Homo sapiens: one gene and its partner. The protein of the gene in region 2 interacts with the protein of the main gene of each other region in a biochemical or structural test. Each region holds a gene or a part of one and is shown on either strand. Other genes may lie near its edges.

Evidence for each region.
Region 1: the proteins of MPDZ (region 2) and CLDN10 interact in a test that uses a peptide from one of them, tested with the Homo sapiens proteins (one large-scale study listed by IntAct).

The regions. Positions count from the first base shown.
Region 1 is NC_000013.11:95,559,171-95,562,825, forward strand, and holds part of CLDN10 (claudin-10), read left to right. Parts: intron 1-961; coding exon 962-1,123; intron 1,124-1,211; coding exon 1,212-1,293; intron 1,294-3,655. UniProt on the Homo sapiens protein: Forms paracellular channels: polymerizes in tight junction strands with cation- and anion-selective channels through the strands, conveying epithelial permeability in a process known as paracellular tight junction permeability.
Region 2 is NC_000009.12:13,220,561-13,224,215, forward strand, and holds part of MPDZ (multiple PDZ domain protein), read right to left. Parts: intron 3,151-3,655; coding exon 3,011-3,150; intron 1,887-3,010; coding exon 1,673-1,886; intron 941-1,672; coding exon 812-940; intron 1-811. UniProt on the Homo sapiens protein: Member of the NMDAR signaling complex that may play a role in control of AMPAR potentiation and synaptic plasticity in excitatory synapses. Promotes clustering of HT2RC at the cell surface.

The sequences.
Region 1 (3,655 bases), on a different chromosome or scaffold from region 2:
GCTACTATCACTATTTTAGATCGAAATATGGCATTGTTTCAGGCTGAAATGAAAATGGCTTATGTGGTAAAAGCTTATTAGTTTAAACCCTGTTAATGTAAAAACCTGGACAAAAGCCACACTGAAGTTTACCGTGTACCCTGGCTGTGCAAATAAAAATACATGACTAAGAACATGAATAGCACAGGAAGGATGAACAAACGAACTGACAGAACATACTCGTTAGGGTACTTTAAAGGCATTCATTTATAAAAGAACAGTTGACTTAATCACTATAAATTACTCTTCTACAAAATAGTGCTTTTTAAAACCCAGTTTTATTATATACACCCTGAAAACAATAGTACTTCACTAAAGTATTCCCTTAGACCCCCCATGGTTCATGATGATATTCCAGTTAGTCTGCTATTAATAAGCGTCCACTAATATTGGAAGGTTTGACCCTTTGGATCTCTTTCTGCCACCCAGTTATAAATCTTATCATTTGATAATGTCAAAACCATTAAAACACCCTTTTAAAGTCCAATGAGCGGAGGAGCTACAGAGTTGTGATGGTGGCAGATGATGTTTTTTCACAGTGAAAGGCACCTTTCACTGTGGAATTTCACTATATGGAATTCGTAGTCTGATTTGGGATGGAATCCATGTCTGCCACTTTCTAACTCACCTCTGGTAAGTCACATAACCTTTGTGTGCCTCAGTTTCCTCACTGGTGAATATGGAAATAACACTCAGATCTATCCTGAGGATTCCCCATAAACCGCACTTCACAGTGTGTGACCTAGAATAGGCACTCCCTGTAGATTAACTTGCTTTCCTTTCTTGCTTGTCTTGCCACATGTTTTCACCATCACAGTTATCTTTTTGGAAAACAAACATCCAGAATGACAACGTAAAATGAGGATTTCTCCCTGGACAGCCACATGCTTTATGTAACGTAAATGACCTACTCTAATTGCAGGTTATATACAGGCATGTAGAGGACTTATGATCGCTGCTGTCAGCCTGGGCTTCTTTGGTTCCATATTTGCGCTCTTTGGAATGAAGTGTACCAAAGTCGGAGGCTCCGATAAAGCCAAAGCTAAAATTGCTTGTTTGGCTGGGATTGTATTCATACTGTCAGGTAAATAGTAACTTTCTTCCAAACAAGGTACTTGATGATGTTAATGAAATCACACTAACCATAGTGCTTTCCCTCTAATATTTGTTAGGGCTGTGCTCAATGACTGGATGTTCCCTATATGCAAACAAAATCACAACGGAATTCTTTGATCCTCTCTTTGTTGAGCAAAAGTAAGTACTCTTCTCAGTCTGTTTCCAGCTCACAGGAAGTGTATATAAATTAATATTCTCAACCAAGAGACATGAATTTCCTATATGACTTTTGAAAGTAAGACATACTGATAAATGGTAACTGATGACATCATTCAAGATTAAATGTGTCATATGCCACATACGCAAAATATGCATTTAATTAGTTTGCTAGTGTTGCAGTGTCTTGTCTCGAAACAGTTCAAGGCATCAAATTTAGAACTATAAACTTCATCGTTTGCTGTACATCATGAAACTGAGGTCAAGTAGAGGAAACGTGAAAGGTGTCAGACGGAGAGGAAAGAATGATGCGGTGTGCGAATAGAAAATTAAAACCTTGCCTTGATTGTTGCCCACTCAAAATGATATTTGCCAGATGCTAGTTTCTGGGTCTTTTAAATTTGCTGTATTAACTACTGTCTTAACAAGCTCCTCCTAATAAACCTTTATAAAGAAACTGTATACGATGCAAGGTTTTTGAAAAATGCTGTAGGAGCACGGCACCTTTACCCAAATGTGGCTGGTCAGTCTTGCAGATGAATGCTTTGGAATTAACAGATCAGTTTGCTTGTTGGTGTTGTTTTTAAACTATGGGCTGTTGCTTTTTATAGTTTCCCTAGGCTTATTTCTTTGGATTGGGAAAACCCCAGGGATACCAAATCAGAATTAATATATTAAATATTTTGTCTTACCTAAGAATGTATCTACATCCCTCTTTAGGAAGCCTCACGTACGTGTGTGTGTATTGCTATCAATGAGGCTGGTAATTTTATTTTAGACTTCAGGTCAAATTTTATAGAATTTTTAAGAAGTATATTACTGAAATAGCTGGTCAGCTGGGCTTTACTTTTTTTCTGGTGGTTTTAGGAATCTTCAGGAAATTGATTTTCTAGTTCTGGCTTAAGTGTACCTTACGCATAAACAGTAAATGCTTATATCATGAAATAAAATGAAAATAATAGCTAGCGCATGTTGAGTCCCCACCAGGAGCCAAGCAGAGCACTGCAAATATTATTTTATTGTGTTATTTTATTTTATTCTTACAAACAACCTTATAAAGTAGGTCCTCTTGGTACTCTTTTTTTAAATTGAGGAAAGAGGCCAAGTGATGTGTTCAAGGGAACTTGGACCAAACTAGTAGGCTGATTGAACTGGGATTCAAACCAGGCAGTTGAACTTCAGAACACTGGCTCTTAAAAAGCATGATTTCTAATATTCCACTATTTTGTAATTTTTGTGACAATATGCTACATGTACTGTTCATCAAGAGGTTTCTTTCGTCCTTTTTTTTTTTTTTTTTAAGAGTTAGGGCCTCTTTCTGTCACTCAGGCTGGAGTGTGGTGGTGTGATCTTAGTTGACTGCAGCCTTGCGCTTCTGCACTCAAGTGATCCTCCCACCTCAGCCCCCCGAGTAGCTGGGACATATATGTGCCACCACAACCAGATAATTTTTTTTTTTTTTTTGAGATGGAGTTTTCGCTCTTGTTGCCCAAGCTGGAGTGCAGTGGTGCGATCTCGACTCACTGCAACCTCCATCTCCCAGGGTCAAGTGATTCTCTTGCCTCAGCCTCCTTAGTAGCTGGGATTACAGGCACGCACCACCATGCCCAGCTAATTTTTTTGTATTTTTAGTAGGGACAGGGCTTCACCATTTTGGCCAGGCTGGTCTCGAACTCCTGACCTCAGGTGATCCACCCGCCTCAGCCTCCCGAAGTGCTGGGATTACAGGTGTGAGCCACTGCGCCCGGCCCCGGATAATTTTTACATTTTTTAACGGAGACAGGTCTTGCTATGTTGCCCAGAGTTGTCTCCAGCTCCTGATCTTCAATGATCCTCCTCCCTCAGCCTCCCAAAGCACTGGGATTACAGGCATAAGCCACCATGCCCAGCCTTTTCTATACATTTAAAAATAGTTTTTATTCAGAAATGTTATTAAATGGGAAAGAAAAACAAATTTTATTAAATGGGTTTTAGACCTCAATATAACTTTTTTATCCCCTGCCTATAATACAAAAACATGTCCTAATTTATTAATTTTCTCCTACTTATCTTTCAAATGAGATTTGCACAGATGTACATGGCAGGAAACATTGAAATAAAAACCAAGGCTGTATTTCTGAAGCTTAGAAATATTTTAATGATATTTAAAAGAAATATTGTATTTAAATGATACATTTTTATTTTAGGGTTTGATATCATAAATATGCAGCAAACCTGTACTTCTCATGGTTTATTTTATTAAACACATTTCTCACTCTTCCGCATTATCTTTTCTATATTACTGGTTTTATTTTCCTGACAATTATTAAGGATATCTTTGTCTATATCTTAAAAATCATTGGAC
Region 2 (3,655 bases):
CATTTGATGCTGCTAGATGCTAACTAATGTTTAAAAGGAAGAAAAATTTGCATACTATTATATTACCGTTAACACCCCTACTGACAAGGTTGCCATTAAACAGGAATTTCATTTATGAATACAGGGAATATTTGATGAGCTGGACTTCCTACTTTAAGTTCAAACACACATGTATAAACAACCACTTTATTTTTTAAAAAGTTATAATCAAGGCAAAACTTACTTAAACCAGTAAGCCTTATCAAATTAAGATATAAATCATAACAAATGTGTTAAATCTTTTCTCACATATATTGCAACAATGTCACATATCATAAATGGTAATGCCTCAATAAACTACTCAAGTGATAAAAAACAGGCTGTGTTTCATACACAAAGATGATACCAATGACCCATCACTAAAGGAACAAGGTGAATGTTGTTTTTCTGCCTGAATACAAAAGTATATTTTCCCACAATACCCTGTGACTATAAAACAGCTGACTAGGTATATAAATACGAATTATGACTATAAAACAAATAGTAGCTACCTCCACAATTATCAAATCCATAACCTTGGCTTTAGTCTGAGGTTCAAAAGTGTTAAACTCATTGTCTAAAACTATAACTTAAGATTACTGTCCCTTTTCAAAGGTATTCCTCCCCTAGGTCTAAGACAACATTTTAGGGACACTCAATAAAACGAAAGATTCTAACTCAATTTCTTTGGCATCATTTAAGGCCAAAGTTTCTTCTTTCCAACAAAAAAATGTAAAAGATGTACCCATATTATTTGATAAAATAGCATAAAAGATCTATTGATGTAGCCTACCTGATCAGCTACTCCTCCAGGCAGAATGGTTTTTACTATCACACCAGTTGCTTTTCCTCCTATGATGCCAAATCCCAAACCAGATCCATCATTCACCAATTCAATCGTTTCCATGTGTTGCCAGTGAACCTACAAACAAAGCTCATATATGAATTTGTAGAAATTTACAAAGCACTACCATTTTACATTACAGTAGAAATTTTTGCGATTATTTTGTTAATATTAAATAATTAAATTCAGACATAATAATGAGTCCTAACAATGTCCCTTTCATTTGGTATACTTCCCTTTCAACAGAATGTAAGTGCCATTGACAGAATCATTCTTGAAATTATCAATATATCATCATAATGATTTCACTTCAACAGTTAAAGACAGGCATTGATTTGCAAGATCTTTTGTAGAACTTCTTTAAAAAAAAAGAAAAAGTTCAAAGAAAAAAAAAGGTCACATGTTAAGAATGTCTTCTGCATAATCCTGCCTTGAGGCAGGATTCCAAATTAGATGACTTCTTAAAAGTTACTGACAGCTAACTCTAACAATATAATTGTATAATTTTTAAAGCAAAATCAAGCTTGTATCTGTCTACAGATAAAGTCAATTTTGTTAAAGGACTACATTTTTCATTTTTAAGGAATGCTGTCAAAGGACAAAACTACACAAAGAAAAGTAATTGTTGTTTTAGAACTTAGAAGCTTTATCATGCTTAAAGAACAAATATTCCAGGCTGGGGAAAAATAAAAGAATAGTCAGACAAAAACTCAAGAAGTGCAAAGACCCTACACAAATTAGAAACTTGGAGATAACCAAAAACAACTTGAAAAATACGTTCTGTTCCTTTTGAAAATTTTAGGTACTCACCGGATTAGAGTGAGCTGAAATTGTGCTGGCTGCAGATGGAGAACGGGAAACTATGGGGCTGACAAGCTGAGGCAATGAGCCTCTGGCAATAACTAGCTGGACAGTATCTTTGGCTTTCTGCAGGATGCTGATAGCCTGCTGATGTGTAATTGTCTGATCAAGAGCCTGTCCATTGATAGCAAGAATTTGATCAGTTTCTTTCAATCTTCCATCTCTATCAAGGATGCAAAAGGGGATAAAAGACAATCTGAGAGTTCTCAAGGAAATGACAGCTTCTTTGGCATGTATGTTCAAGTCATTTTTAATCCTATTTTTAATTCCCACACTCTAAGCTTTTTCCTGCAGTTCTACTTTAAAAAAAATACACGCCTTGGCTGCAGGTCATCAACTCTCGTAAGGTTATTTCACTGCTACTCCTACTGAACCCCTCCCATATAAAAGTACTCTTTATTTCAGCTACCTACTCAGCCTACATTACATCTTGGATATTCTCATCTTCTAAAAATGAAAGTGGATATATCTATACAGTTGGCCTTGTGTATCCATGGGTTCCACATCCATAGATTAGATCCCCAACTGGGGATCACATCCATAGATTAGATCCCCAACTGGGGATCACATCCATAGATTAGATCCCCAACTGGGGATCACATCCATAGATTAGATCCCCAACTGGGGATCACATCCATAGATTAGATCCCCAACTGGGGATCAAATATACTCAAAAAAAATAATGCCACAACAATAAAAAAATCACACAAATTTTAAAAATACAATATGACTACTAATGTTTACATAGGATTTGCACTGTGTTAGGCATTATAAGTTAAAGATGATTTAAAATATATGGGAGAATGTGCACAGGCTATATACAAATACTATACCACTTTATATAAGGGACTTGAGCACCTGCAGATTTTAGTACCTGCAGGAGTCCTGGAACCAATTCCCCATGGATACTGAGGGGCAACTATATTAAATTATTGCTCTGGGTACATAAAAAAAATGCAGCTCGAATTATTATGGGTCATTTCTAGCATGGTAATTTTAAAAATCTAATCAAAAAGAGCCCATTTAATTAACAATGAAAATAATGTTATCCTCAAATTTTTCTTTCCTTACCAAAACTTAAGTTATGACTATATCTAAAAGCTACTCTCATTTCAAAGAACCTGCTATTTTATCACAACAATGTTAATGACTTCTAAAAACTGGTTAATAACAGATTATGTTCAATTTTTTGTTGCCATTCATTATTATTTTTCTAAATTCCTGCATAGTAACCAAAACCTTCAGAATGTGGGATCAAAAACAAAGAAGACGCCGCGACCATCTCACCTATGGGCCACACTGCCCTCTTGTATCTCTTGAACAAATATTCCCAGCTCTCCTCTGTTTTCACTTCTTAGTCCCACAACACTAAACCCAAGGCCTCCAGATGGAGGTTTGAGGAGCTCAAAAACTTCTACATGGCGACCCTGTTTAGGAAACAAAGCAAGAAATAAAACTAAAAGCCAGGCCATGCATGGTGGTTCACGCCTGTAATCCCAGCACTTTGGGAGGCCAAGGTGGGAGGATCACTTGAAGCCAGGAGTTAGGGACCAGACTGGGCTACATAATGTGACCCCATCTCTATAAAAAATAAAATAAAACTTAGTAAGTGTGGTGGCACACATCTATAGTCCCAGATACTCAGGAGACTGAGGCAGGAGAATCCCTTGAGCCCAGGAATTTGGGACTGTAGTGAGCTATGATCACAACACTGCACTCCAGTGTGGGTGACAGAGCAAGGCATGTCTCAAAAAAAAACTTAAAAGCCAATTACTGCAGTAACAGTCATCTTATCAGAATCATTTCTTTGTTAAAAAAAAAAGAAATTGAATAACATTTTTCCAAGGTAATTGTTAGCACTTTATCCTGAAGAATATTTCTATAATACAACATATAATACTCAAATTTAAATGATGATAAAACTGTAATAGA